Homo sapiens: one gene and its partners. The protein of the gene in region 1 purifies or fractionates together with the protein of each later gene. This does not show direct contact. Each region holds a gene or a part of one and is shown in the gene's direction. Other genes may lie near its edges. The genes, in order: TSPAN33, VKORC1L1, DDR1, TNNT3, MYH2, MYH1 and MYH8.

Region 1 (3,500 bases):
AGCTCAAAATTCTTAATCACATTTGCAAAGTTCCTTTGGCCATGAAAAGTAACACAATCACAGGTTCCAGCAATTAAGACGTGGACATCTTTGAGGGGACATTATTCTCTCCACCATAGATAGAGACAGAGCAACTGCTGTCATTACAGGCCCATAAATACAGTTAACTTACTCTATGATATGTGGCATCTCTTTACTTTGCCCATTTTTTCAACTTTTATTTTAGGTTCAGAGGTACATGTGCAGGTTTGTTATATAGGTAAATTATGTGTCATGGGGTGATATTTCATAACCCAGGTAATAAGCATAAGTAGTTTTCCGTCCTCTCCTTCCTCCTACCCTTCACTCTAAAGTACATGTGGCCATGTGTACTCAATGTTTAGTTCCCACTTACAAGTGAGAACACATGGAGTTTGGTTTTCTGTTCCTGGATTAATCTGCTTAGGATAATGGCCTCCAGCTGTATCCATGTTGCTGCAAAGGACATGATTTCATTCGTTTTTATGGCTGCGTAGTATTCCATGGTATATATGTACCACATTTTCTTTTCTTTTTTTTCTTTTGATATAGAGTCTTGCTCTGTCGCTAGGCTGGAGTGCAGTGGCACGTTCTCAGCTCACTGCAACCTCCGCCTCCCGGGTTCAAGTGATTCTTCTGCCTCAGCCTCCTAAGTAGCTGGGACTACAGGCATGTGCCACCATGCCCAGCTAATTTTTGTATTTTTAGTAGAGATGGGGTTTCACCATGTTGGCCAGGATGGTCTCAATCTCTTGACCTCATGATCCACCTGCCTCAGCCTCCCAAAGTGCTGGGATTACAGGCATGAGCCACTGCACCCGGCCCCACATTTTCTTTTTCTTTCTTTTTTTTTAGAGATGAAGTCTCACTCTGTTGCCCAGGCTGGAGTGCAGTGGCATGATCTCGGCTCACTGCAACCTCCGCCTCCCAGGTTCAAGCGATTCTCCTGCCTCAGCCTCCCAAGTAGCTGGGACTACAAGTGTGTGCCACCATGTCCAGCTAATTTTTGTATTTTTAGTAGAGATGGGGTTTCACCATGTTGGCCAGGCTGGTCCCAAACTCCTGACCTCGTGATCCACCCGCTTTGGCCTAAGTGCTGGGATTATAGGCGTGAGCCACCGTGTTTGGCCTGACCCCACATTTTCTTTTTCCCGTACTGTTGGTGGGCATTTAGGTTGATTCCATGCCTTTGCTATTGTGAGTAGTGCTTGTTTGGCCTTTCTTGTTTTAGCTGTGCTACGATTTAATCAGATACCATCTTTGTGGAAAATTATACACCCTGGTGAAAATTTGACATGAAAAACAATGAGAGCCTGGAAGCAACAGAAATCAAGAGCAGATACACATTTTTCAATAGTTCAGTAAAATGACACTCAGAACTGTAATTGGCTGCAGTGGGTTTTAAAGGGCAGACAGAGATGCTCACTGACTCTGGTGGAGGACTGGCCACCAGGCCTGGGGAATGACTGGCATCTCTGTCATGTAGTTTCCCTGCCTCCCCCATGCTCCGTGAGCCTGGCAGTGCTGTGGGACAAGGCGCCAGCTGGCACCTGCAGCTCTGCTAGCAGCTCCCACCCTCCTGGACAAAGAGTATGAAGGCCAGCAAATAACACTTTGGGCCCTGAGTTAGAGGCATGGTCAAATGATGTGAGGTGGGAAGAGACCGGGGCCAGCTGAGTGTGGTGACTCACACCTGTAATCCCAGCACTTTGGGAGGCTAGGGTGGGAGGATCAATTGAGCCCAGGAGGTCAAGGCTGAAATGAGCTATTATCATGCCACTGCACTCCAGCTTAAGCAATAGCACAAGACCCTCCTCCCTCACCCCGCAAAAAAGAGGGGGCTGTATATACAGGCAGAGAAGAGTTCTGGAAGACGTGGTTTTAGATAAAGGTTTGCCATTTACTGCTGAATGCACCTGCCCTCCCCTGCCAGATGGCAGAGGACCTTCAACAAGGAGGCCTACAGGGAAAAATGAGGGACTCATCTGACCCTATTACCTGTTCTGGGGGCCTAGCTCCCTTCTTCCACCAAAGCCCCATGGTGGCTCTTTCCAGCTGCTTTCCGTCTTGCAGGACAGTGGTGTCTAGCCAGCCATCTCCTTCCCCACTGAGTTGGTCAAGACCCTGCTGCTGAGAACTCTCTCCTGCCAGAGCTTGGCCCCATCTGTTGCCATGGCAACAGCCAGCTGCTGCTTAGCACCAGCCTGGAGACTGGGCACAAAAAAAGGGTGGCCAAGGGAAGTAGGCACTGGGGCTCTCCTGCACCCCTGGAGGCCTGGGGGCTAGGGGGTAGATAAGGCCTCTTTGGGGTCTCCTATTAGTCTCTGATGGGTTTGTTCTCTCAGGGAGAAGCCAGGAAATTTGAAAGATCTAAACTCCTCTCTATTCCTCCACACTGGAATCAGAGTTTGTGAAGATAAAGGTTCCTTTGCCAAGGCAGTTCCAGTGCTTACATACATGCACTCACACACAGTCCTTCACATTGGAGTGCACTTTCTTTTTGTACTTGACATGATATTGACCTCTAAGAGGGTTAGAGAGCTGGGAGTATGCAACCGCCCAGGCCTGCTTTAGGTATAAAACCTGTCCTTTGATGCAGATAGATTCGAATTCAAAACTTTTCCATTTATGTGTGACCCTGGGCAAGTTAACTATTAATAATGATAGATAATATTTATTGTCAGGCATTGTGTTAAATTATTTCCATGCATTATTTTAGTTGGTTCTTACAGTAATCTTGTCAGTTGTTTGTTCTTACTTCCCATCTTCAGATACAGAAACTGAGGCTCAGAAATTTGCCCTATGTGTACCCAAGTTTGACTCGCTCTGAAGACTGTGTCCTTTTTAATTTTAACTTCAATTTATTAGAGACGGGGCCTCACTCTGGCACCCAGGCTTCAGTGCCATGGCACAGTCATGGCTCACTGCAGCCTTGCACTCCTGGGCTCAAACCATCCTCCTGCCTCAGCCTGCTGAGTAGCTGGGACTACAGGTGCACACCACTGCACCCAGCTAATTATTATTTTGTGTGTGTGTCTAGAGACAAGCTCTCACTATGTTACCCAGGCTGGTCTCAAACTCCTGACCTCAAGTTGATTCTCCTGCCTTGGCCTCCCAAAATGCCCAGCCTGAAGCCCATATTCTTAATCACTCTTCAGTATTAACCTTGGATTGCCTTAATTTCCTCATCCGTAAAATAGGCATAATGTCTGCCTCACAACCTAATTGTGTTACGAGCACTGAATGAATAATGAAAAATATGATGTGGGTAAAAGTGTCTCATGGAGGTAAAGCCCTGACAGATTCTATCAGCAGAATCACTGGGGAGGTGAAAGATGCTCACCTTTGGGTCCCAGGAAAGCAGTCCTTCTCCTGCTCTCCTAGGTTTCTCATGGCATTCAGGGCTCTCTGGTTTCCAGAATCTCAGGGTCTGGCTCTTTTCCTGTCTCCACAGGTGATTTCCATGGTGATGGTGGCTGTGG
Region 2 (3,492 bases), about 63 Mb from region 1:
GGCATGAGCCACTGTGCGTGGCTTCAGGTGCCTTTTTGTATTGAGAGCCTGGATTTAGCACACATGTCCACCATTTTTCTTGATCAGGTTTGACCCACATGCAGCCAACGGGCAAAATGTGGTTTCCCTTATCCACCAGGGTGAGCCCTTCCTGAAATGTTTATCAAGAGTTTCTTTTTCTCTCTTCAGCAGCTTGTTGGTGTAGTCACCTCTCATTGTGGATTTTTAATCAATTTGATCTAAACATGGAAAAGCAAATTTTACTTTCCACAGATGGGCAGGATGTAGTGAAAGTCCAGAGAAGGTTCTCACCAAATGTGTGCAGCTCGGAAGAAAAAGGTTGTGGTCCTCATGTCCCGTTATTCATTTGGTGTCTTGGGGCTGTTGATGTTACAAGTCAGCTTCATTGCTTAATGTGATTGTGAGATTGCATGTTTTCTTTGTGTGCATATTTTCAACTAGGCTAGTTTGTGAAATTAGTAATGTTTTACCTGAAAGATTGAGAAATCAAAAACATCACAGCTATAAAACTGGCATTTGGCTGGGTATGGTGGCTTATGCCTGTAATCCCGGCACTTTGGGAGGCTGAGGCAGGAGGATCACCTGAGGTTAGGAGTTGGAGACCAGCCTGGCCAACAAAAAATCAGCCAGGCGTGGTGGCACGTGCCTGTAATCCTGGCTACTTGGGAGGCTGAGGCAGGAGAATTGCTTAAACTCAGGAGGTAGAGGTTGCATGAGTTGAGATTGTGCCACTGCACTCCAGCCTGGGCGGTAGAGTGAGACTCCATCTCAAAAACCCCAAAACCTGGCATTATCAACTGCAGAGTCAACCTGTATAATTTTAACAAAACAGAGCAGTATTTCTGTTCTCAATTTTCAGAGTTGGCAGGAAGATCAGTATTCAAACACTGCAGCAAGTCACACAGTGTTATTCCTTGTCACTCAGAAAGCCTCTCTCCAGCACCAAGGCCTGACTGAGCCTGCGTCTCTTCTCTTACAGGCATGACAGCAAGCGCTGTGGCGGCTTTGATCCTCATGACGTCCTCCATCATGTCGGTCGTGGGGTCCCTGTACCTGGCCTACATTCTGTACTTTGTGCTGAAGGAGTTCTGCATCATCTGCATCGTCACGTACGTGCTGAACTTCCTTCTTCTCATTATCAACTACAAACGACTAGTTTACTTGAACGAGGCCTGGAAGCGGCAGCTGCAACCCAAGCAGGACTGACGCCCGACAGACTCCACCCTAACAGTCTCAAGCCCCTTTCCATTCAGTTTATTTTGCAGCAGGTTTTTATTATTATTATTATTATTATTATTCACAACAGACACTTTCCCTAAGAATCTCAAACTGATTTTTAAAAATCCGGTAAATTAGAAGGGGCCCTCGCTATTTTCTGTGTCAGTCTTCATTTTAAATATGGATACAAAAAGGATACGCCGAGCCAATCAAAGACAAGCTTTAACTTTACTTTGAAGTGTTTCTGAAATGATAAAATGTAGCCCTAGCCCCCTGCCCTCAATTGTAAAGTGAGCAACCATTGCTAGTAATTCTTTAATGTGTATAAATTCAATTTCAGGTATAACAAATGTGATCATGACATGAAAATATTCTAGAATAGATACTGTATTAAATATTGCCATGTTTACAATATGTAATATGTTTTTAGCCGATGGATTTAAACATGTAGATTCAACTAGAATCCATTTGTGATATTTGTAAATAAAGGTAGAAATATTAGATCCATTTCTGCAGAACTTACTGTACAGTTTAGTTGGAGTGTAGCACTGAAGAACTGTCAGCTCAGCGTTGACTGAGGAGATAGTGAAAATAGCCTATACACAGCATCTTGTGAAAAGTACTGGCAGCCGTGGTTGCAGCAAATAATAGGGCAAAAAAAATAATAATAGGGTGGTCGGTTCCCTTTCATCTCCCTCTTCTGAAAGGAAAAAATTGAATTGGAACGTTCAAGTCCAGTTTGTGTTCAGTCATAAAACTGGGCCAGTTGTTAACCTTACAGAATGAGTCATGTGGCCAGACCTTCAAGTCCAAGGCCTTCAGACACTAAGGATGGGAAAATGGGTATTTTTCTTTGGAGAAAAGCTGGAAATATAAACATGGCATTTTTAGGTAAAGTTTCTTCCACTAGTTGAATTTTCATGCAGATATTTTTCCTTAACGTTGGTGCCAGTCAAGCAAAGAGTATTATGATGGAAAAGACCAGTCCAAGCCCCATCGCTCCGGAGTGGGAGCCAGTGTTCTTGCTAATTGTTTCTTTCTGCACTAACCACTCAGATGTCTAATTTAATTGTTTTGCAGTCAAATACTGGATTTGTAACCTTCAGGGCTGACATGCTGCCCAGTTTGCTTCATCGGGAGAATAGCAACAGGTAGACACATCTCAAGGCTAAATCTGCTCATGTCGCCACTGCTCTCATAATGACACACATGCAGTAAGAAGACTTTTGTAAGGGGATTTGAGTACACCCAAATGAAATTGTGACAGGATGTTTGTATGGTTAACATCTGATATCAGAATGTTAAAAGTGCCTTCTGTCTTAAATCTCAAACCAAATATTTTGTGTGTTGACCTTGGGCAGAAGAAGTGTCCTTCCCTCCTTTCTTCACCGTCAGGTAGAAAACCTGCACTCTGCAGAAGGGTCCTGTGTGATCACTTAATCCTCTGGTTGAGAAGCAGCAGTAATGTTTTTGCTTCCAACCTGATTAATCATTTTATGTTGAAAATAGTCAATGAGACCAGTATCTCTTGAGTGCTTTATTTGCCTTCTCTTTGAAGGGAGGGGACGGGCTCTGCTCTGTAAACTCAAATGTGTAGAGTCAGCAACAATTCCGTAGCTTCCAACTGACTCAGAATTGATGCAACGTAGGTCTTCTGGCCCGAGGCAGGTATCAAGTCCAAATCATAATGAACTTTTCACCAGTTTCAACCAGTTTCTTAAAAGAGAGCTTAAGTCAAGATTTCATCAAGACTTGTGTTTTCCCATGAATGTGAATCTTTCAATGGCTGTTGGAGTATGTATGTACTGTTCTTGCATTCTGAAGTAGTTAAAGAACTCTAGAAAGTACTGATTGGCCATCTGGTGTCTATGGAGAAAGAAGTCCTCACGTTTGAGGGCTGTACAGTGAGGCCATCTTGTAGCAGCGCATCCAGCTCTACCAAGGCAGTCCTCTGGTTCTTTTTTCTAAGCTACAGTGGAAATGGCCTAATGGTTAAAACTGTGGTATACATGACATCGGTTGTGCTAAACAAGTTCCTCGTGTCCCAATATCCAATGGTTTTTCATCCTATTTTGTATCAATCAACAGAGTATAGTTAAAGCTTGTCTTGATGTTGCATTCTTGCAAATGTCTTCAACTCTTACCTGAGAAAACATGGCAAAATGGTCAGCCAGACCCTTCCAGTTTTTCCTTTGCTTTTCTAAGCCTCGGGGAAACCACTGTTTCAGTTGTATAAAAACTTTTGCCACATTC
Region 3 (3,500 bases), on another chromosome or scaffold:
TTTCAAAAGGTGGGATATTTTTTATACTTCTGTTGCTTGCTTTTCATATTCAACAGATATACATGGAAATCACACAAAGTTAGGAATATATTGCCTCTTTGTTACTTTTCATAGCTGCATAGTAGTCAATAAACCTTATTTTTTTTAATTCCAGCCTGTCCCCTGTGGGCATTCACATATCTTACAGATTTATGTCTTACAAAAGGTACCATAATAAACATCTTTGAAATCTTCTTTTTTATTTTTATTTTTCACTTTTTTTAAAGAGATGGGGTCTCACTATGTTCACCAGGCTGGTCTCTAACTCCTGGCCTCAAGTGATCCTCCCATCTCGGCCTCCCAAAGTGCTGGGGTTACAGGCATGAGCCACCAGACCCAGACCTGCACATATGTTCTTACTTCCTGGTGCTTCTCTCTCGAGGGAATGCTGGGTCGAAGAGGATGTGCATTTTTAATTATAATAGACATTGCTAGATTGCTTTCCAAATAGAAGATAACACTCATTTCTGCCATTGAGCATGGTGCCTCCCTTTTCATCACTTTCTACCACTTTTATATGTTACAGCCTTAAAAAAATATCTTGTCAGTCTGCTTGGTATTTCCCTGAGGCTGGTGAATTTGACCATTAAAAAAAATGTTTGTTGGCAATTTGGCTTTGCTTTTCTGTGAAATGACTATTCACATTCTTTGGCTGTTTCTTTATTGGGTTACTTATATATTTTTTCTTGTCAGTTCCTAAGGGGCCTTAGTTTATTGTAGTTATTAAACCTTTTCCTGTTGTATGTGTTATAAACATTTTTTGCACACTTGTTGTTTGTTCTAAGCCGTTGTTTATGGGGATATTTTGCCCATTCCTGATTGGAGAAATGGGGCTTTAGGAAGTTATTTAACTGATCTCTGCCCTAGTTTCTTCATGTGTTAAATATGGATAGTAATAGTATCTACCTTATGAAGTGACTGTGAAGATAAAATTATGGATTCTGTTTAAGGGTTTAGGCCAGTGTCTGGCACAGGGGAAGCATTCTAAAAATATAGCTGATGCTGTTAAACAATGACTGTTGTTGTTGTTTTACTGTTATTATCCCCAAAGCGGCCCATTCTGTCTGTTGCTGTCAGCTATGACTCAGTCCCCTGATTAACTTACGCACCACCCATTTTATCCCCTGCAGAGATGCTGCCCCCACCCCCTTAGGCCCGAGGGATCAGGAGCTATGGGACCAGAGGCCCTGTCATCTTTACTGCTGCTGCTCTTGGTGGCAAGTGGAGATGCTGACATGAAGGGACATTTTGATCCTGGTGAGGAGACTGAATCATGGGTCCCTGAGGGCCAGGGCTTGGGAGGTAGAGAGTTGGGGGCCTTGACCTGTTACATGCCTGCTTTTTACTCAGCCAAGTGCCGCTATGCCCTGGGCATGCAGGACCGGACCATCCCAGACAGTGACATCTCTGCTTCCAGCTCCTGGTCAGATTCCACTGCCGCCCGCCACAGCAGGTACTTGGCACACCTGGCACACTTGTAGCTGCCCCGAGAGGAGCTCCTGGGACCTCTACTTCCCCTCCAACCCCTCTGCCCATGCCAGTGAAACCCCTGCAGGCTGAGGGGGCAAATGAAGTGGGGTTTAAATACTGGAGATGGAGGCAGACCTGGGGCCAGATGTTCTCTGTGCCCCTCTTCACCCTCAGGTTGGAGAGCAGTGACGGGGATGGGGCCTGGTGCCCCGCAGGGTCGGTGTTTCCCAAGGAGGAGGAGTACTTGCAGGTGGATCTACAACGACTGCACCTGGTGGCTCTGGTGGGCACCCAGGGACGGCATGCCGGGGGCCTGGGCAAGGAGTTCTCCCGGAGCTACCGGCTGCGTTACTCCCGGGATGGTCGCCGCTGGATGGGCTGGAAGGACCGCTGGGGTCAGGAGGTGAGACTGGCAGGGGCAGCACCCAGAGGAGGTTGGCTCTCCTCACTTCCAGCTGTACTTTAAACACCACCTATACGCTGACGACTCTCCAGTTTATATCATCTCCAGACTAAGCCTCTCAGCTGAGCTCCAAACAATATTGTAAACCTGGCCACCTTTTGGATTTCTCCACTTAGATGTCTTTTTTTTTTTTTCTAATAGATGGGGTCTTGCTGTGTTGCCCAGGCTGGTCTTGAACTCCTGGGCTCAGTGATCCTCCCACCTTAGCCTCCCAAAGTGCTGGGATTACAAGCACTGTAGCCAGCCACCTAGATGTCTAATAGGCATCTCAAACGTACGTTTAACTTCCCAAGCTGAATTTGATTCCCATTCCCAGCCTAAACCTGCTCCTCCCCTGGCATTCTCCAGCTCAGGAAGTGGTATCACCATTGCCTGGTTGCCTAGGCTATAAGTTAAGATGATATCCTTGATTCCTTTTTTTCTCTCACCTCCTTCCAAAGCATCAGCAGCCCCGTCTGTTCTACCTCCATAGTGTTCCTGAGTCCAGTCACTCCTCACCACTCCACCTCTACTGCCCTAGGCCACCTGCCCGCCATCTCCAGCTTAGATGAGTGCAGTAGATGCCAAACGCGTCTCCCTGCTTCTGCCCTTTTCTGCCTGGAGTCAAATCTCCACCTGGGGGGGCGGCATCCAGTGGACCTTAGAGCATGTAAATCAGATACGTCACACCTAGCTGACACCCCCATGCTGGCTTTCCACTCTGCCAGAACAAAAGCTGAGTCCCTAGCTGGTGCAGGATGCTCAGCCTGACCTGGCTCCTGCCTGCATCACTTGTTTCTTGGCGCCTCCTTGGCCACGCTGCCTTTCTTCTTGTTGCTGGAACAAGCCAGGGCTCGTTCCCACAGCTTCTGGACATTTTCTCTGTGCCTGCAAAGCTCCTCCCCTAAATAACCACAGGCTCTCCCTCACTCCATTCAGTTCTCTGCCAGGTGTCACCTCCTTAGAGAGCCTTTTCTGGCCACCCACCTCACTGCTCTGTCCATACTTCCTGCCTCTTGTTCTTCGCAGCTGTTTTCCCTGCTGGGATCTCAGTCCTACAAGGGTGGGGAGTGACGTTCACCACTGAGAACGCGCCTGGCACAGAGCGGGCACTCAGCCAACTTCTGCTGAATGAACAGAGGGAATGGGCTGAAATGAAGGGGAAGCTGAGGCAGGGGTGCAGGGCTGTGAGGATTGGGGAGAATCTGGGCACAATGGGATGATAGGCTTGGAGACAAATGGATGGAGCCAGGCAAGGAGAAGAGGGCAGCTGAGCCTGAAGTCTGAGGATGGAACATCAGAGCTGCGACAGAGCCAGAGGTCTCAGCTGCAGATCTTCATTTCACCCATGCCTGGCTGCGCCCCACAGTGCTGTGTGCTCGGTGCCACCCCTCATGGGTCTCTAAGTGGCCACTGTGGGCTGGGCCAGGGAGCAGCTGGTGGGTGGGAAGTAAGATCTGACCTGGACTCCATCCCACCCACCCCCTGTTTCCTGGCCCACAGGTGATCTCAGGCAATGAGGACCCTGAGGGAGTGGTGCTGAAGGACC
Region 4 (4,270 bases), on another chromosome or scaffold:
CAGGAGGACGGCGACGTTCCCAGCAACCCCAGCTCCAAGAGCCTTCCCAGTGCCGGGCACTCAGCGGGAGGCAGGCAGGGGACCGGCCCTGTCCTTTGAAATGGCAGCCTGGGGCCAGCCCGCCTTGTCGTGTGACCCCAGGCACACCTTGCCTGTCCCTGGGCTCTGCGGCCTCGCTCTTCCATGGAGGGGTGGAATGAGGTGCCAACCACAGCCTTCCGGAAGGCCCCCGACCCGGCCCCAGGGCACTGTGAGCCCCTGCCGGGTTATCCTGTTGTCCCTGACTCTAAGCCTGGGGAGGACAGGGACCTCATCTGTGCCTCTCGGGACTCACCCCTGTCCTGGGCGCTGGCCAAGAAGGAACCAATCTGTGCCTGAACCGAAGAGTTCCGCAGACACCACCGCCCACGCTCAGCCTGTGGGGTCTGAGGGGAGTGAGGGGGTGGGTCAGGGTGCCAGACTGCTCTCCCCCACCTGGTGCCTCAGTTTCCCTGATCCAAGAGGCAGGGTTATCCAATCTGGTGGCCTCACTGGCCAGCATACAGGCCATCAGAGGCCAGGAAGGATGTCTGCTAGTCGGACGGTGCCACCTGGAGTCCTGAGGAAAGAAAACCAGTCTCCACACGCCACAATGAGCCTGTGGGAGATGCTGGCACAGATGGTAACGGCCACTGCGAGTGCCCAGGGTGGGGCCCCAGGGTTAGAAAGGGCCTAGAGGGAGGACCCAGACCCTTACCCAGCAAACTCCATGTGTAGCCCCCTGCAATGGCAGCAGCCCCGGGGGGAGGTATGGCAGACTCGGACTGCAGCCAGCCTGGCCATGTCCCTCGCCCGCTTATTGTGTAGGCCCCAACGGTGTCTAGCCAGGAAAGCAGAGCTGGCCTCTAAGAGGGTCTCAGATAGGGTGGGGGCCTGGCCTCAGTTCCATGGGGGGTCTCCGAGGCCTCAGGCTGCTTCCTCCCCGGGGGAGACAGCGAAGGGCCTGGGGCATTGGGCCGGGCGGCGGGAGGGGACCCCGGCTGTGCGGACCCTTTTCCTGGACAAATGTTTACTCCCACAGAACATCTCAGAGAGAAGGGGCGGGGGGGTGGGAAACCCGGCAGCCTGGCTCTGGGGACCCCCACACTAGTTTGGCCCAAAGAGAGCCTCGGCTTGGTGCCCCGGGGCCACCCAACACCTTCCTCCTCCCTCCTCAGCCCATCCAGAATGTACCCGCTGCTGGGAGTAAAAATAGCAGCTGACACCTCCTGGAGGCGGAGGGAGGACCTTGCCTCCTTCTCCAAGCACGTCCTCTGCATCCTGGCCTCCTTCAGCCTCCTCCTCTGGCCATTCCTATACTTGGTAAGGGGCCTGCACGGGCATAGCCCCCCCCAGCAAGACTCCGCACACACCCCGGCCACCCAGTCACTGGCCAATGGGCTCCTAGGAAGATCAAATGTCACTATAACACGAGGGTGTGAGCCGGGCGCCAGTGCCTGCAGCCGGTGCTGTCCACAGGGAGCTCCAGCCCTTCTCACACTCGACCCGCAGGTGGGTATAGGCAGGAGCGGCCACCCAGGACTGGGGCCGACGGGGCCTCCTGCGTGCGGGTGGACAGCCCCTCGTTCCAGGGACACTCTGGGGTCCTGGGGCGCTGAGGTCCCAGGTCCGTGTGGTGCCGAGCATCTCGAAGCATCATGGCTCGGAGCCCCCAGGTGGCTGCTCCAGCGTCCGGAGAGTCTGGGATGCGGACATGGTGGTGTGATGGTCTCAGCACCGGGAGGATGCAGAAGAAGGCAGAGTGTGGGAGGCCAGGAGGGGGCAAGTCGGGGCTCAGGGAAGCTCAGTGCTAGGGAGTGGCCTGAGGGCAGGAGGCAGAGAGGTGCGGGCTGTGAGCGGCAGGGAAGAGGCTGTGCAGGGGTGCTGCCAGGGCTTAGGTTGCCAGCTTGTGGTCGCCATGCAGACATTTGCCCAGGCCCGTCCTGGCCTTGCCATGCAGCTCTCGCACCTGGGCCTCCAACACCGCCATTTTGTAGAGATGAAAACGAGGACAGGAGGGCAGGGGCTCCTGTATGGCCAGCCCGAGTGTGTTGGGGTGGGGGCGTCTAAAGCCCACGCAGCCTTGGGGGCCAGCGTCTGGAGGTGCAGGACAGAAGTGGACAGGGGCTGGACTGGGGCAGGACGGGGCAAGAGTGAGGGGCTGGGCTTCATCGCGTCCCCCTGGCTGGAGGCTGGAGAAGCTGGCGCTCGTAAGAGCCCCCACCCACCCTCCCTGCCCTGGACACGGTCCCCCTGACTTGTGCCGTCTGATCAGGCCTTGGCTGCCCCTCCTGAAGTCCACGGAGGGACATGGGGCAAAGCAAAGGTTGGCTGGGTGGAGAACAGGTCTGGGGGCATGGTCAGGGCCACAGCAAGCAAGGGGCAGCGGCTTTTGCCTCCCCACCCTGCCCTGGCCCCGTCACCTCCCAAGGAGGGAAAGGTGATGCATACGTGCCCGAAGAAACTGACCGCATAGGTTATTTTCACGCAGCCCCTCCAAGGCAGGCACTAACTGGACACCTGCTTTGCGTCTCAGCTGTTGAAATGCCATCCCCTGCCCCCAGCACACCCCTGCCCCCAGCACACCCCTGCCACCAGCCCCTCCCCGCAACAGAGGCAATGACACAGGCCATACTGGGGGGAACAGAACAGCCTTGTGTTGCTTCCAGGCGCTCAGCAGAAAACCAGGTGCCTCAGTTTCCCCACTTGGAGAGTGGGCCTTTCCAGCGCACGTCGGGGGGCCTGGAGGTCACCCTGCCTGAGGGTGTTGGGGCACCCATGTGACTCTGGCCTGGGGGGACAGGAGGGAAATATGAGGAGCTGGGGAGGGCCTGGGTGCCCGAGGGTGAGGGGGCAGCTGTGGGCCAAGGAGGGCTGGGCTGTCACACCCGCCTCACCCACGTCTTGGGTTTCTGGGCAGAAACGTCTTGCCTATTTCTGGACACCTCAGCTGCCACTGGCTCCTTATAAATAACCCACCCCAGGCGAGGGCCACGCTGCCCCCATCTTGTGGCAGCCGACAGGTGTCTGCCCCGCCAGCGTCGGGCTGGGCACAGCAGGGCGGGGCCAGGCTCCGCTCCCTCCCTTCACTGACCCTCCTCCTCCTTACAGAGGATGGCCCTAGAGGAGTCTGTGGCGTTTGGGGCCTGAACCAGCTGGGAGGACAGCACGAGGGGCTGGTGGGCAGCCTGGGACTGGGTCACACCGGGGGCCTGGACAACACTGGCTCGTGGGGCTGAGGACTGAGGAGAGCCTGGCCCAGCCGTGGCAGTTACAAGAGGCTTAACCTGAGGGGCAGCAGAGTCTCAGGAAGAGATTCTGGGATAGGAAAAAGCTACCCCCGTTGCCTGGAAGACAGCTATCTGCTGGGTAATTTTGCATGGAGCTTAAGTTGCTCTGGGAAAATTAACATTCTTGACAGAGGGTTTGGAAAACGGTTCCCACCTCAGCAGTGCAACGTAGATGCATTTTTAGCTGATGAACGTGTGTTTTCCTTATACAACACTCCCAGGGGGGACCGTAGCTATTGTCTTCGAGTAATCTGTACTGTGTTGTAATGAACTTTGTTTTCTAAAACCCTGGCCAACATGCCGGTGCAGCTGCTCAGAGCCTCCCCAGGCCTGGCCGCCCAGTGTGCACGGTGGCCAGCTCACAGAGAGACGGTCCCCAGCATGCTGGCCTGGCGCCACCACCGCACATGGACAGGGCAGCCAGTCCTGGGCATGGAGCTTCCCCTAGACAGGGACAGATCCAGAGCATCCCCGGGACCAGGGAAAGCGGCCACAGGGAGGGAAATGGGGGGGCTGTTCTGTGGGCTCCTGCAGTCCAAGTATGCCTTGTACAGAGCCCGGCCCGGGGGGGTGCACGGGAAGCGGCCCAGACCCAACCCAACGTGCTCTGGGGCTCAGCCTCAATGTTTTCAGGGTACAGGGGTAACAAGAAGGAACAGCTTCCCTGCTCTGTGATCTTGGAGGAGGGGTCCTCAGAGGGGTGTGGTGGGACACACTCTGGGCACCCCATAGGAAAACAGGCACAGAAGGGAGCTTTGGGCTCAAATAGGGAAGAGGGGTTCTCATGGGGAATGGTAGGGTGAGCAGATTACTCATCTTGGGGAGCCAGTCTCGGTCATCCAGGGGCTCCCAGGGAGACCCCACCTACACCCACTGGGCAGAGAACACCCAGAGACAGGTTTCAGCTCCATCAGCGGGACCTTTCCAGTGTCTAGAGCGGGCTGGACGGCACACGGCCTGCA
Region 5 (3,500 bases), on another chromosome or scaffold:
TACATCTACACATATACATATGTGTATGCAGATATATAAATAATTTATATGAAGCAAATTTTATTTTTACCACTTGTAATTATGCTAATATTTTCAACTATATTCCATTTTATTAAAAATAATAAATTTTGGTCATGATCCACGATATATATATATTTGGGTAATTGTCTATATATGGGGTAATTAGCTGTAAAAATCATTTAGATGAAAACAAAAGTGGTATTAGAGAATAGAATACAAAATTCACACAACATTAACATATAAAGCCAGATATTTTCTAAGAAATTCTGAGTTTTTAATATCTCCTGCCCCATATACCCCTAAAGAGCTGTGTTCCCCCTTCACTGCCCTTAGTGGTGTTTTAGTAGCAATGTTTGAGAAGCACTGACATACAGCAAGGCTTCTCAAAGGGTGCTCCTTGGACTTGCAACATCAGCATTTCTTGCAAACTTGTTAAAAGTGCCAATTTTCAGGCTCCACCCTAGATCTTCTGAATCTGAATCTGAATCTACGGAGGTGAGGTTCAGGAGTCAGTATTTTAACAAGCCCTTCAGGTGATTCTTATGCATGCCAAAGTTTGAGAAGCAGTGATGTAGAGAAATGAGTGACCTTAGCAAGACCTTGACCATCATCCCGAAATAGAATTTTTTCATCTGCATGTTTGAAAGCAGAGTAGGAACAAGGTGAAGCAGAACCTCCAACTCTCACTGCCAAGGTTTCATCCCATTGCATCAACCACACAATACTAATTTGCATCAATTAAATTTCAGGGAGGCCATCTTCTGTATCCAGTACAATATCAGATCCTTCATGAATGTCAAGCACTGGCCCTGGATGAAACTCTTCTTCAAGATCAAGCCTCTGTTGAAGAGTGCAGAAACTGAGAAGGAGATGGCCACCATGAAGGAAGAATTTCAGAAAATTAAAGACGAACTTGCCAAGTCAGAGGCAAAAAGGAAGGAACTGGAAGAAAAGATGGTGACGCTGTTGAAAGAAAAAAATGACTTGCAGCTCCAAGTTCAGGCTGTGAGTTGGAATATCACCCTTGGTATCACTAACCAGGATGCAGGTGCTAGAACTTTGGCCATTGTGGGCCATGAGTTGGGTAATTGCAAGGGAGACACTCATTGGAAGGAAAAGGTTAAAACACTCCAATGGCACGAAAAGGTCCAAACATTCCTCCATTGCCCAATAACCCCCAACAAACCAGCACCAGGGCAGTGAGGTAGAAATATCCCTCATTTTCCATTGTACACAATTTCATCAAACCACAAGATTTTTGACTTATTTTCTCTTTAAATACAGTCCATAAAAATGATTTTAATATGACACAATCCCAAATAAAATATGAAGGGGAGGATAGCATGGAGAGAGTAATATTTTTCGGAAACTTCCTTGAACTTCTAGATGTCCACGGGTCTTAAATTATAATAGGAACAGCTGACATATGACAGCACTCTCATCAAATTTTACTGAATTATCGTGTGATATTGATCTCAAAAACTCAGACTCCCTCTTTCTAATCTGTCTCCACAGTCAGTGTCCCATCATGTCACACCCACATTGCTGCATCAGCACCAAAGTTGCTCAGCCTACTTCCCAATTGTCTCTTCTTCCATCCAGCCTGCTCACTGCCCTCTCCTGAACCAATCATTTTAGAACTGCTTCCATCAACTTCAGACTATAATTTATAAGACTATGTTTTATTTGGAGTGAATTGAATTGGTCTACTTATCATAAAGTCATATTTTTTTCTGTTAAGACTGGTCTCTCTGTCAACGTTGAGCAGTATAATAACTCCTTCTAGATTACAGAAGGAAAAAGCCCTCCAAATCTACCCTGTATTCTCTTCTGTTGTCCCCAGAGATTTATGCAGAATCTGTACTAAACCACTGTATTCGTTACACAGTTATACATAGCACCCTGCATTCCTTAATGTAGTCAAAGACTGATATGGAGGATTACTGATGAGTATATATTCCAGTGTCTCCTTCATTTCCCGCCTGCCCTGTCCCCCTTAATTGGAAACAGCAGGTTGCCAGGAATTTCTTGATTACTTTATGTTTCAACTTGAATTTAGTACATCATAATCAGGAGCATCCTCCAGTACTACAAAAAAAAAAAATCAGTAGCAGCTGTATCTTGAATTTGTCCTGCTAGAATGCTTCCCCACAACCCTCCTGCTCCTCTCCACAATAAGTTGATTTCTGCAAAAGCAAATCCTACCCCTCTCTCAAGGCCCAAATCAAACAGCAATTCTTTCATGAAACCATCTCTGATCCAACTTCTCTGATCTGTTATGTCACTAATTGCTTTCTACATTAATGGTAGCTTTTGGGAAATAGGTTTTCTAATCTACTGTAGAATACATTCTTTTAGGGGAACAAAATGACAACTGGTACATTTTGGCTTACCCACATGTGGAAAATGTACACAGTAGGGTGGTTCATGAAACAAAAATTTGTGAAGGAGTAAACAAATGAATATAGGAAATTCAAAAGATCAAATGCAGAAACATACACTCTTATCCATTGTGAAGTATTTCATTCTTTCTTCCCAATTTTGATCTTGTTTCCAACTTAAGGAAGCCGAAGGCTTGGCTGATGCAGAGGAAAGGTGTGACCAGCTAATCAAAACCAAAATCCAGCTAGAAGCCAAAATCAAAGAGGTGACTGAGAGAGCTGAGGATGAGGAAGAGATCAATGCTGAGCTGACAGCCAAGAAGAGGAAACTGGAGGATGAATGTTCAGAACTCAAGAAAGACATTGATGACCTTGAGCTGACACTGGCCAAGGTTGAGAAGGAGAAACATGCCACAGAAAACAAGGTATCAATCATATTCTACAGTACTGTATAGAGGTTCTGCCACCCAACAAAGGTGCTTTATAGCAACTAAACTGCTTTCTTCACCTTTGTAGGTGAAAAACCTCACAGAAGAGATGGCAGGTCTGGATGAAACCATTGCTAAGCTGACCAAGGAGAAGAAGGCTCTCCAGGAGGCCCACCAGCAGACCCTGGATGACCTGCAGGCAGAGGAGGACAAAGTCAACACCCTGACCAAAGCTAAAATCAAACTTGAACAACAAGTGGATGATGTAAGTCTGGTATCATCAAGGACATTCTTTTCTTCTAAAGGAAGATAAGCATTCCTTCTGATTCAACATAATTTATATTTAGCTTGAAGGGTCCTTGGAGCAAGAAAAGAAACTTCGCATGGACCTAGAAAGGGCTAAGAGGAAACTTGAGGGTGACTTGAAGTTGGCCCAAGAATCCATAATGGACATTGAAAATGAGAAACAGCAACTTGATGAAAAGCTCAAAAAGTAAGTAAGAAAGAATTGCTTATGGATTTGCTTCCAACATTAGATACGGACTAAATTGTTGTCCTTTGCTACTTTTCTAAAAGGAAAGAGTTTGAAATCAGCAATCTGCAAAGCAAGATTGAAGATGAACAGGCACTTGGCATTCAATTGCAGAAGAAAATTAAAGAATTGCAAGTA
Region 6 (3,500 bases), on another chromosome or scaffold:
ACCAAGAAGTTGAGTTCGTATTAATATTTTTCACCATTCCCAGGCCCGCATTGAGGAGCTGGAGGAGGAAATCGAGGCAGAGCGGGCCTCCCGGGCCAAAGCAGAGAAGCAGCGCTCTGATCTCTCCCGGGAGCTGGAGGAGATCAGCGAGAGGCTGGAAGAAGCCGGTGGGGCCACCTCAGCCCAGATTGAGATGAACAAGAAGCGGGAGGCTGAGTTCCAGAAAATGCGCAGGGACCTGGAGGAGGCCACCCTACAGCATGAAGCCACGGCGGCCACCCTGAGGAAGAAGCATGCAGATAGTGTGGCCGAGCTTGGGGAGCAGATTGACAACCTGCAGCGAGTGAAGCAGAAGCTGGAGAAGGAGAAGAGTGAGATGAAGATGGAGATCGATGACCTTGCTAGTAACATGGAGACTGTCTCCAAAGCCAAGGTACAATCAACACTTCACATTGATTATTTGGTTTTTTGTTTTTCCCTTTAGCACAAATATGATTTGTATCTCAAAAACGTCTCATGAACTAAATCAGGCACCCTTTTTCTCATATCACGTATAGTACAACTTAGTAAAGTAGTTAGATTAACAAGTAATTCAGTGGCTGTATGCTTGGACTATGTATCTTATTAGTCTTTCCATTCACTATCTAAGACCTTTGCTGGTTTTGTTTGTAAAGATAGTTTCTTCTCAAAATAAATGAGTACTGCAGCTCATATGGAATGTTTAGATTACTGAAACTTTCTTTGGTCCAACTACTTACTTGAGATGCCTTCTACCACTTTTTGAATGCAGGGAAACCTTGAAAAGATGTGCCGCGCTCTAGAAGATCAACTGAGTGAAATTAAGACCAAGGAAGAGGAGCAGCAGCGGCTGATCAATGACCTCACAGCACAGAGAGCGCGCCTGCAAACAGAATCAGGTGGGCCATGTACCAGTACTGACCTTGAATGACAAATTCACCCTGCATGTGTAATCCACTGAAAAACTCTGCATTTATTTACTTGAGGTCATATACTACCTCCCTGGGAGATCCCCACTAATATGAACACATTATTGACCACTGGCATGAGGTTGCTTTCTTTCATATATATACGAGAGAAATATATGTGTATATATATGAAACATATATATCCATATATATATTTGTATATATATCCATACATACATATATATATATATATAAAGAGAGAGAGAGAGATAAATAGAATCAGGCCCTTCTATTTTTGAAGACTTTAAGGGAGACTTGGCTTTAATCAAAAAGTTATCAAAAACAAAGTGCATCCTTACAGTACCTCTTTTCACTTTTCAAAATGCTTTCGCAAGCTATGTGTTACTTTATTTTCCTCATTAGTCTGTGTAATACTATCCCCATTTTAAAGACAGTGGATTATGGTAGTGATGAAGCAACTTGTCCAAGAATGTTTACTCCAGTCTTTTTCCTGAAGTCTTGCCAATTACTGGTAACTAACACGGTTAAGTAGGGAAATATTCAAGACCACAACCCAGCTGAGAAGCATTCAAGTAAGATTTGTAGATTTTTGATTAGAGAAATTGGAAAGTCTCTGCATTTATTCCCCCTCCTACTGACGTGTCCAACTTTCTACCAGAGTTGTATCTCCCCAGGTAGAGGTAACAAAATGGAAATTGTTTTATGGGTAATTTAGGCTATTAAAGTAATAGGCAGGTTAAAGTGTTGGAAAATCACTCTACACTTTTGGTATTCAAATACTATTCTTTCTATAACAAAGTTCAGAATAAATATTTATTATAATTCTTATTAAATGCCAGAGATAAAGTTCAAGATAACTAGTATAAAAATGGTGTGGAAAAGTTTTACTATCTTTCTAACATAATGTAGTGCATTTTCTGCATTATGGTGCTTAAAAAATTGAAGACATGTGTAAATGCCATTTAGTTTGGAAAGTACTTATCCAGAAACCAATTCATTCTGGGGATGGGAGACCACTTAATCATTTCTTAATATAAAAATCTTTCCAGAATTTCTCTTGACTATCATTTCTACTTACAGAAGACATTGCCCAAAGTCTCTTATTTTCCACAGTATAAATCCTTTGTTTCAACCAACTTTCAATGGAAGGCAAATTAGACAACACTACTGCCTTACATAAAATAAAAAGTACTAGAATATTTTGTTGGCTTGATTTACATTTTTTTCATGTTTCTTCATCAATTTTGACTACGATCAAATAATCGTAAATATCTCTTGAAATCTTTTGTGCTGTTCACAAGCATGTAATCTGCCTCAAATTTCTCCATGCTTCTAATTTTTACATGGATCTGCTTATCAAGGTTAAAGCGGATGTTGGTGGTTTGTTGTCACCCATGCCCTCCATCAAGTTTCAAACTTGGCTCCCTTTCCCTGCTCAAGTTTTTATTTTAGAGTTTTAATTTCCAAAGTAAGGTTGAGTTTTCTGGACTTGGTCTTTTACAGGTGAATATTCACGCCAGCTAGATGAAAAGGACACACTAGTTTCACAGCTCTCGAGGGGCAAACAAGCCTTTACACAACAGATTGAGGAACTGAAAAGGCAACTTGAAGAGGAGATAAAGGTAAGCTCCACTTGTCATTCTTGTCATTATTGTTCTTGTTATTTGTTTTTCGCTTACTTTTACAGACTTTCTTCTGGTGGCCTATAGGAGATCAGGAATCAAACATCACTTTAAATATATAAAATTAAGTCATCAATCTCTATGTTCTCAGGCCAAGAGTGCCCTGGCACATGCCCTGCAGTCCTCCCGCCATGACTGTGACCTGCTGCGGGAACAGTATGAGGAGGAGCAGGAAGCCAAGGCCGAGCTACAGAGAGCAATGTCCAAGGCCAACAGTGAGGTTGCCCAGTGGAGGACCAAATATGAGACAGATGCCATCCAGCGCACAGAGGAGCTGGAGGAGGCCAAGTATGTTCCAGACTTAGTTAAAATGGAACTATAAGTTTCCTTGCTCCCAAAACATATGAAAAACTAGGGAAAAAACATTCTGGGACCATATACAGCCATATTGTTGGAATTAATGTTTTGGTAGATGCCTTAGAAGAGATTCTGAGAGGAGTTCTCGATGCAAAATGTATATTGATGTGGGAAAGCTTCTTTATTATTAATGGATTAATTAAAAACTAGCACAAATAAGGGATACAATTAGACAGACAAAATCAAGTATATTTCATTTGAATTCAATTTATCCAACATTTGAGCCCTTAATATGTTGGACAGCCTACAAGAATACAAAGATTAGTACAGTACAGACTCTCCCTCTGGGGATTAAAATTATGTGGAGACACAGAAAAACAAACCAGTAATTCAAGGTAGATATTAATATTCTACAGAAGAGGAATAAACCAGCTACCTGGAAGGGTAAAGTGTTAGCTCATGCTTGTCATGGATGGCCTTAAAGCCACTCTATGAAGTATGGCAATACCAAAACTGGGGTTGTTTTTGGTATTTGGTGGTAGGATAATGGGAATGAGTTAATATAGAACTGGAC
Region 7 (3,983 bases), on another chromosome or scaffold:
AAATACATATGTAAATGTACAGAAAAGGTCTGCAATATTACAAACTAAACGGGTATCCGTAGTTACCTTGGGAGAAAAGGGAGATACCAGCATTGTGAGTGTTCATCAAAGGGAAAATTTAGCCTAATCTCTAAGGCTTTAATTTTTATGTAATTACAGTGTAAGAGGTTACACACCTGCATATATTTATCAAACCCATAGGCCTGGAATTGTTCTGCATCCTATCTGTGGTGGTGGCTACATGAATCAATACGTGTATAAAAACTCATACAATCATACAACAAAAGAAGTAAATTTTATTATAAAGTTTAAAAATTTTTAAAAATAAAAGCAAAAAACCTCATAAAACTGTCACTTTAAAAGGGTGAATTTGACTCTATGTAAATTATACCTCAATATATCTGACCTTAAAAAAAGGAAAGAGTTTAATTAAAAAAAATCATAATTTATTTAAAGAATAGGGTATAAATTACATTAGTGATATGATATATTAATTATTAAAGCATATTACAAGGCACACATGTACTATATATGCATCTATAATATGATCCCACTTATACGCCTCTATCTTATTTCTGCATTAGAGATTACAGAGACTTTTTTTACTTACCTGTATTTTTTTCTGTAATAAACATATTATTTTCTACTAATAATGTTTTTCAAAGTTAGATGAGTGGGCACTGGCCCAATGGTGGAGACTCAAGGTAGAATCTCTGCTGTCTAAGCCTGGACTTCAAGAGTGAGCATCTGTAGTGGCCCAAGGGAATGCAGTGGGGGGTTCCCGTGGTAGCAAATAAGGAAACGTGCTTAAGGCCCTGACAGCCGTGTGCCCCGGGTATCTGATCATTTGGCTACCACAGGCGTGCATGAAAGAGTTTGCCAAATTGAATATAGCTCTTAAGAACTTACTCTGAGGCCCCATCAGGCACTGTCAAAGATTCCCTTCCCAGCACACTAGAAAGCATTCTCTGCTGGCAGATCGGTCTCTGTCAAATTATTTATAGGAGATTGGTTTGCATACACAAAATGATATGAATACTTCTAATTATATCCAAACATGACAAATGTCACTACAAACTATGCTGAGGGTTCATGTTGCCAAATGTCTTGCCCTAACAAAGAGGAGGTAGTTGCAGCATCAGCACATTAGTTCCTATATAAGCAGGACTGCCCCTTGTGCCTTATTTCCACCAAGAACCCAGAGGTAAGTGATGAAGGCCTTGGAACTCGAAAAACCCCAGGTGGGGAAAAGAGCTGACCTCGTAGTTATCTGTGAGCATTAAACTGCTCTCTCAATCTTAACTTTTGTCTTCATAGAACCAAGCTTTGGGGTAGGGAAACTTCAATTCTGTAACTATAATAACAATTCTGTAACTATAATATTGGAATTTCGGAGCATCACTAATAAGAAGCTTGTTGTTTTACAGAGTGGAACACTTCTGAACCTGCATTTTTATCTGGAACTCCAGAGGTAAGACTTGGCTTTATTAATTTATTGATGACAGAGGGGATATAGTCTAATGAAGCTGTGAACAATCCTGAATTATACACCATTTCCATGTTTTTGCAGTTATATCAGGAAAGAGTGTTTCCGAGTGAGTGTTTATAAATGCTAGAAAATAACTTTTTCAAAATGTCTTCTTCTCAGAGACTATCCTCATTTGGGTTCCAAGATTCAAAGACCGTTTAGGACAGAATTAGCTTCAACAGTGAGTTCTCAGCTGTGCTTAGAACTGTCCAGTGGCAATAGACTAGTCCATGCCAGTCTTCTTCTATGGCAAAGCATTGAGGACTTAGGACATTTTATAGACATTTTTAAAGACTCCAGAAAGATTTTTACCTAGAAATATAAATATAAATATTTTAGCTACCTTTGATTATTTGTTATTTGTTGTTAGAAAGACTTATTATTATTTACTTAACAGGTCGCAAGTATTACATCCACCGGGTGTTAAATACCATGACTAATTTAAGAGGAATCCTGCCCTTCCCTAAGTAACTTTCTAATTGAAAATAAAGGAAAAACTCAACCAATCTAACATGTCCACATTGCAGAGGCCTATCTATTAATCAGAAGACAATGGCTTACATGCATGTGATGTACTCTTAAAACTTTTTTCTCTGTTTTCTGGGTGGAAAGAAAAGAAACCCATGGAATTTATGTGGGAAGAAGGGCCTTTGTGCTGAAGCTCTCATTCCTCTGTGGTTAGATCTGTTAACTGACAGCTGAAATCTCTCATGTCAAAAAAGATTTTGGAATCAAGGCAATGCTAAGTCTGTTGGGAACAACCCAAATTACAAAAAATCCAGAGTATTAGAATGTATTATGTTCTTCTAACAATCCACTGAGAGATACAACACCAAATATCAACATAAAGATGTTAAAAATAATTATTTGCTTTATGAGAGAAAATGGCCATCTTAAAAGGCAAAGATTTTTTGATAGCTTTGAAAATATGAACCTTCATTTGAACAAGACAAACTTTCTTTTCTCACCATATGATTGTCCTGGCATATGGCATAGACAAACATTATGCAGAAAGAGGAGAGGAAATTAAATAATGACAGTTGCTATAAAACAATCCATCAATAGTTTTAGCTGTAGAGGTTTCATTCTAATTCAATTGTAGGTACCCTATCCCTGAGGATCAAGATATGTGATCTGAAAAGGAAATTCACAGTCCTAAAAATGAAATCTCAAATTACAGTCTCACTCCATACTTGTCCTTTAGACTATGTTAGAACACTGGGGAGTGCCAGTTTGGAGGAATAGTTACAGCACAGGCTATGTTCAACATTTCTTTCATTTCAAATCCTAACTCACATTTGTGACTTCTGCTTTTTATATCTCTCTCTCCCGTTTCTCTCCTCCCTAGGCAGAATCCTTTGCTAAATAAATCGCAGCCATGAGTGCGAGCTCAGACGCTGAGATGGCTGTTTTTGGCGAAGCTGCTCCCTACCTTCGAAAATCAGAAAAGGAGCGGATTGAGGCCCAAAACAAGCCGTTTGATGCTAAAACATCTGTCTTTGTGGCGGAGCCCAAGGAATCCTATGTGAAGAGCACTATACAAAGCAAAGAAGGAGGGAAAGTAACCGTAAAGACTGAAGGTGGAGCAGTAAGTGAAAACAGGGAGAAAATACTCCCCATTTTATTTCTTGGTTCAAAAGTTGAAGCCTAACTTACTGGGAATCTCCAAGCCTGTTGCCAATGCAAACACCCTTCTAGTCAGTGTTGAGACATTAGATGTGGAAGGCAAAAGAAATTCACAGCAGTACCTTCATGTCTTCCCTTCCCAACTTCGCACAGGACCTCACCCCACTATGTATGGCCTTCACCATTTCCCTTCAATTCCCCACTTCCTAGTCTGAATGTCCAAACTTGAGGGAAATGAAAACAAGCTCCTCCTATCAGAAGTTAAATATTTACTTAGTTAAATAATGTATTAATATCCCCATTACTTCCAAAAACATGAAGTTTCTTAATGAATGAAAGAAAAAAATAAAAATTTAGCCTACTAAAATAAGAAAAAAAGGATATAAACTGATAAATCTGGGATAAGAGAATGTGGGAGGAAAAAATCTTTTAAAAAGATAGTGTCCTAGCTCATCATAGGAAACAGGTTTTCTTAACATTAAACTCTGAAATGAATATATTTCATGCCTTTTTTAAGAGGACATTAAATAATATAATGAGAAGTATGTGTGATTATAGTTTTGTACCAAAATATACAGGCAAACATAAACCCTACCTCCAACCATTAAAACGAACTGGTCTTAGCCAGGCGCAGTGGCTCACGCCTGTAATCCCAGCACTTTGGGAGGCTGAGGCAGGTGGATCACCTGAGATCAGGAGTTCGAGACCAGCCTGGCCAACATGGCGAAATCCTGTCTCTACTAAAAATACAAAAATTAGCTGGGCATGGTGATGGGCACTTGCAATCCCAGCTACTCAGAAGGCTGAGGCAGGACAATCACTTGAAGCA

Evidence for each region.
Region 2: the proteins of TSPAN33 (region 1) and VKORC1L1 purify together in Homo sapiens (affinity purification with mass spectrometry; one large-scale study listed by BioGRID and IntAct). This does not show direct contact.
Region 3: the proteins of TSPAN33 (region 1) and DDR1 purify together in Homo sapiens (affinity purification with mass spectrometry; one large-scale study listed by BioGRID and IntAct). This does not show direct contact.
Region 4: the proteins of TSPAN33 (region 1) and TNNT3 purify together in Homo sapiens (affinity purification with mass spectrometry; one large-scale study listed by BioGRID and IntAct). This does not show direct contact.
Region 5: the proteins of TSPAN33 (region 1) and MYH2 purify together in Homo sapiens (affinity purification with mass spectrometry; one large-scale study listed by BioGRID and IntAct). This does not show direct contact.
Region 6: the proteins of TSPAN33 (region 1) and MYH1 purify together in Homo sapiens (affinity purification with mass spectrometry; one large-scale study listed by BioGRID and IntAct). This does not show direct contact.
Region 7: the proteins of TSPAN33 (region 1) and MYH8 purify together in Homo sapiens (affinity purification with mass spectrometry; one large-scale study listed by BioGRID and IntAct). This does not show direct contact.

What each region holds. Positions count from the first base shown.
Region 1 is NC_000007.14:129,158,207-129,161,706, forward strand, and holds part of TSPAN33 (tetraspanin-33), read left to right. Parts: intron 1-3,472; coding exon 3,473-3,500. UniProt on the Homo sapiens protein: Part of TspanC8 subgroup, composed of 6 members that interact with the transmembrane metalloprotease ADAM10.
Region 2 is NC_000007.14:65,953,074-65,956,565, forward strand, and holds part of VKORC1L1 (vitamin K epoxide reductase complex subunit 1-like protein 1), read left to right. Parts: intron 1-1,000; coding exon 1,001-1,227; coding exon of another isoform or gene 1,228-1,340; 3' UTR 1,341-3,492. UniProt on the Homo sapiens protein: Involved in vitamin K metabolism. Can reduce inactive vitamin K 2,3-epoxide to active vitamin K, and may contribute to vitamin K-mediated protection against oxidative stress.
Region 3 is NC_000006.12:30,887,519-30,891,018, forward strand, and holds part of DDR1 (epithelial discoidin domain-containing receptor 1 isoform 2 precursor), read left to right. Parts: intron 1-1,169; coding exon of another isoform or gene 1,170-1,211; coding exon 1,212-1,296; intron 1,297-1,389; coding exon 1,390-1,492; intron 1,493-1,683; coding exon 1,684-1,912; intron 1,913-3,364; exon of another isoform or gene 3,365-3,454; coding exon 3,455-3,500. UniProt on the Homo sapiens protein: Tyrosine kinase that functions as a cell surface receptor for fibrillar collagen and regulates cell attachment to the extracellular matrix, remodeling of the extracellular matrix, cell migration, differentiation, survival and cell proliferation.
Region 4 is NC_000011.10:1,918,233-1,922,502, forward strand, and holds the start of TNNT3 (troponin T, fast skeletal muscle), read left to right. Parts: upstream 1-1,470; 5' UTR 1,471-1,530; intron 1,531-3,129; exon of another isoform or gene 3,130-3,387; intron 3,388-4,270. UniProt on the Homo sapiens protein: Troponin T is the tropomyosin-binding subunit of troponin, the thin filament regulatory complex which confers calcium-sensitivity to striated muscle actomyosin ATPase activity.
Region 5 is NC_000017.11:10,529,159-10,532,658, reverse strand, and holds part of MYH2 (myosin-2), read left to right. Parts: intron 1-770; coding exon 771-1,026; intron 1,027-2,584; coding exon 2,585-2,827; intron 2,828-2,918; coding exon 2,919-3,095; intron 3,096-3,177; coding exon 3,178-3,323; intron 3,324-3,406; coding exon 3,407-3,497; intron 3,498-3,500. UniProt on the Homo sapiens protein: Myosins are actin-based motor molecules with ATPase activity essential for muscle contraction.
Region 6 is NC_000017.11:10,498,043-10,501,542, reverse strand, and holds part of MYH1 (myosin-1), read left to right. Parts: intron 1-43; coding exon 44-433; intron 434-790; coding exon 791-917; intron 918-2,450; coding exon 2,451-2,569; intron 2,570-2,720; coding exon 2,721-2,917; intron 2,918-3,500. UniProt on the Homo sapiens protein: Required for normal hearing. It plays a role in cochlear amplification of auditory stimuli, likely through the positive regulation of prestin (SLC26A5) activity and outer hair cell (OHC) electromotility.
Region 7 is NC_000017.11:10,419,151-10,423,133, reverse strand, and holds the start of MYH8 (myosin-8), read left to right. Parts: upstream 1-1,183; 5' UTR 1,184-1,204; intron 1,205-1,427; 5' UTR 1,428-1,471; intron 1,472-2,876; 5' UTR 2,877-2,906; coding exon 2,907-3,116; intron 3,117-3,983. UniProt on the Homo sapiens protein: Muscle contraction.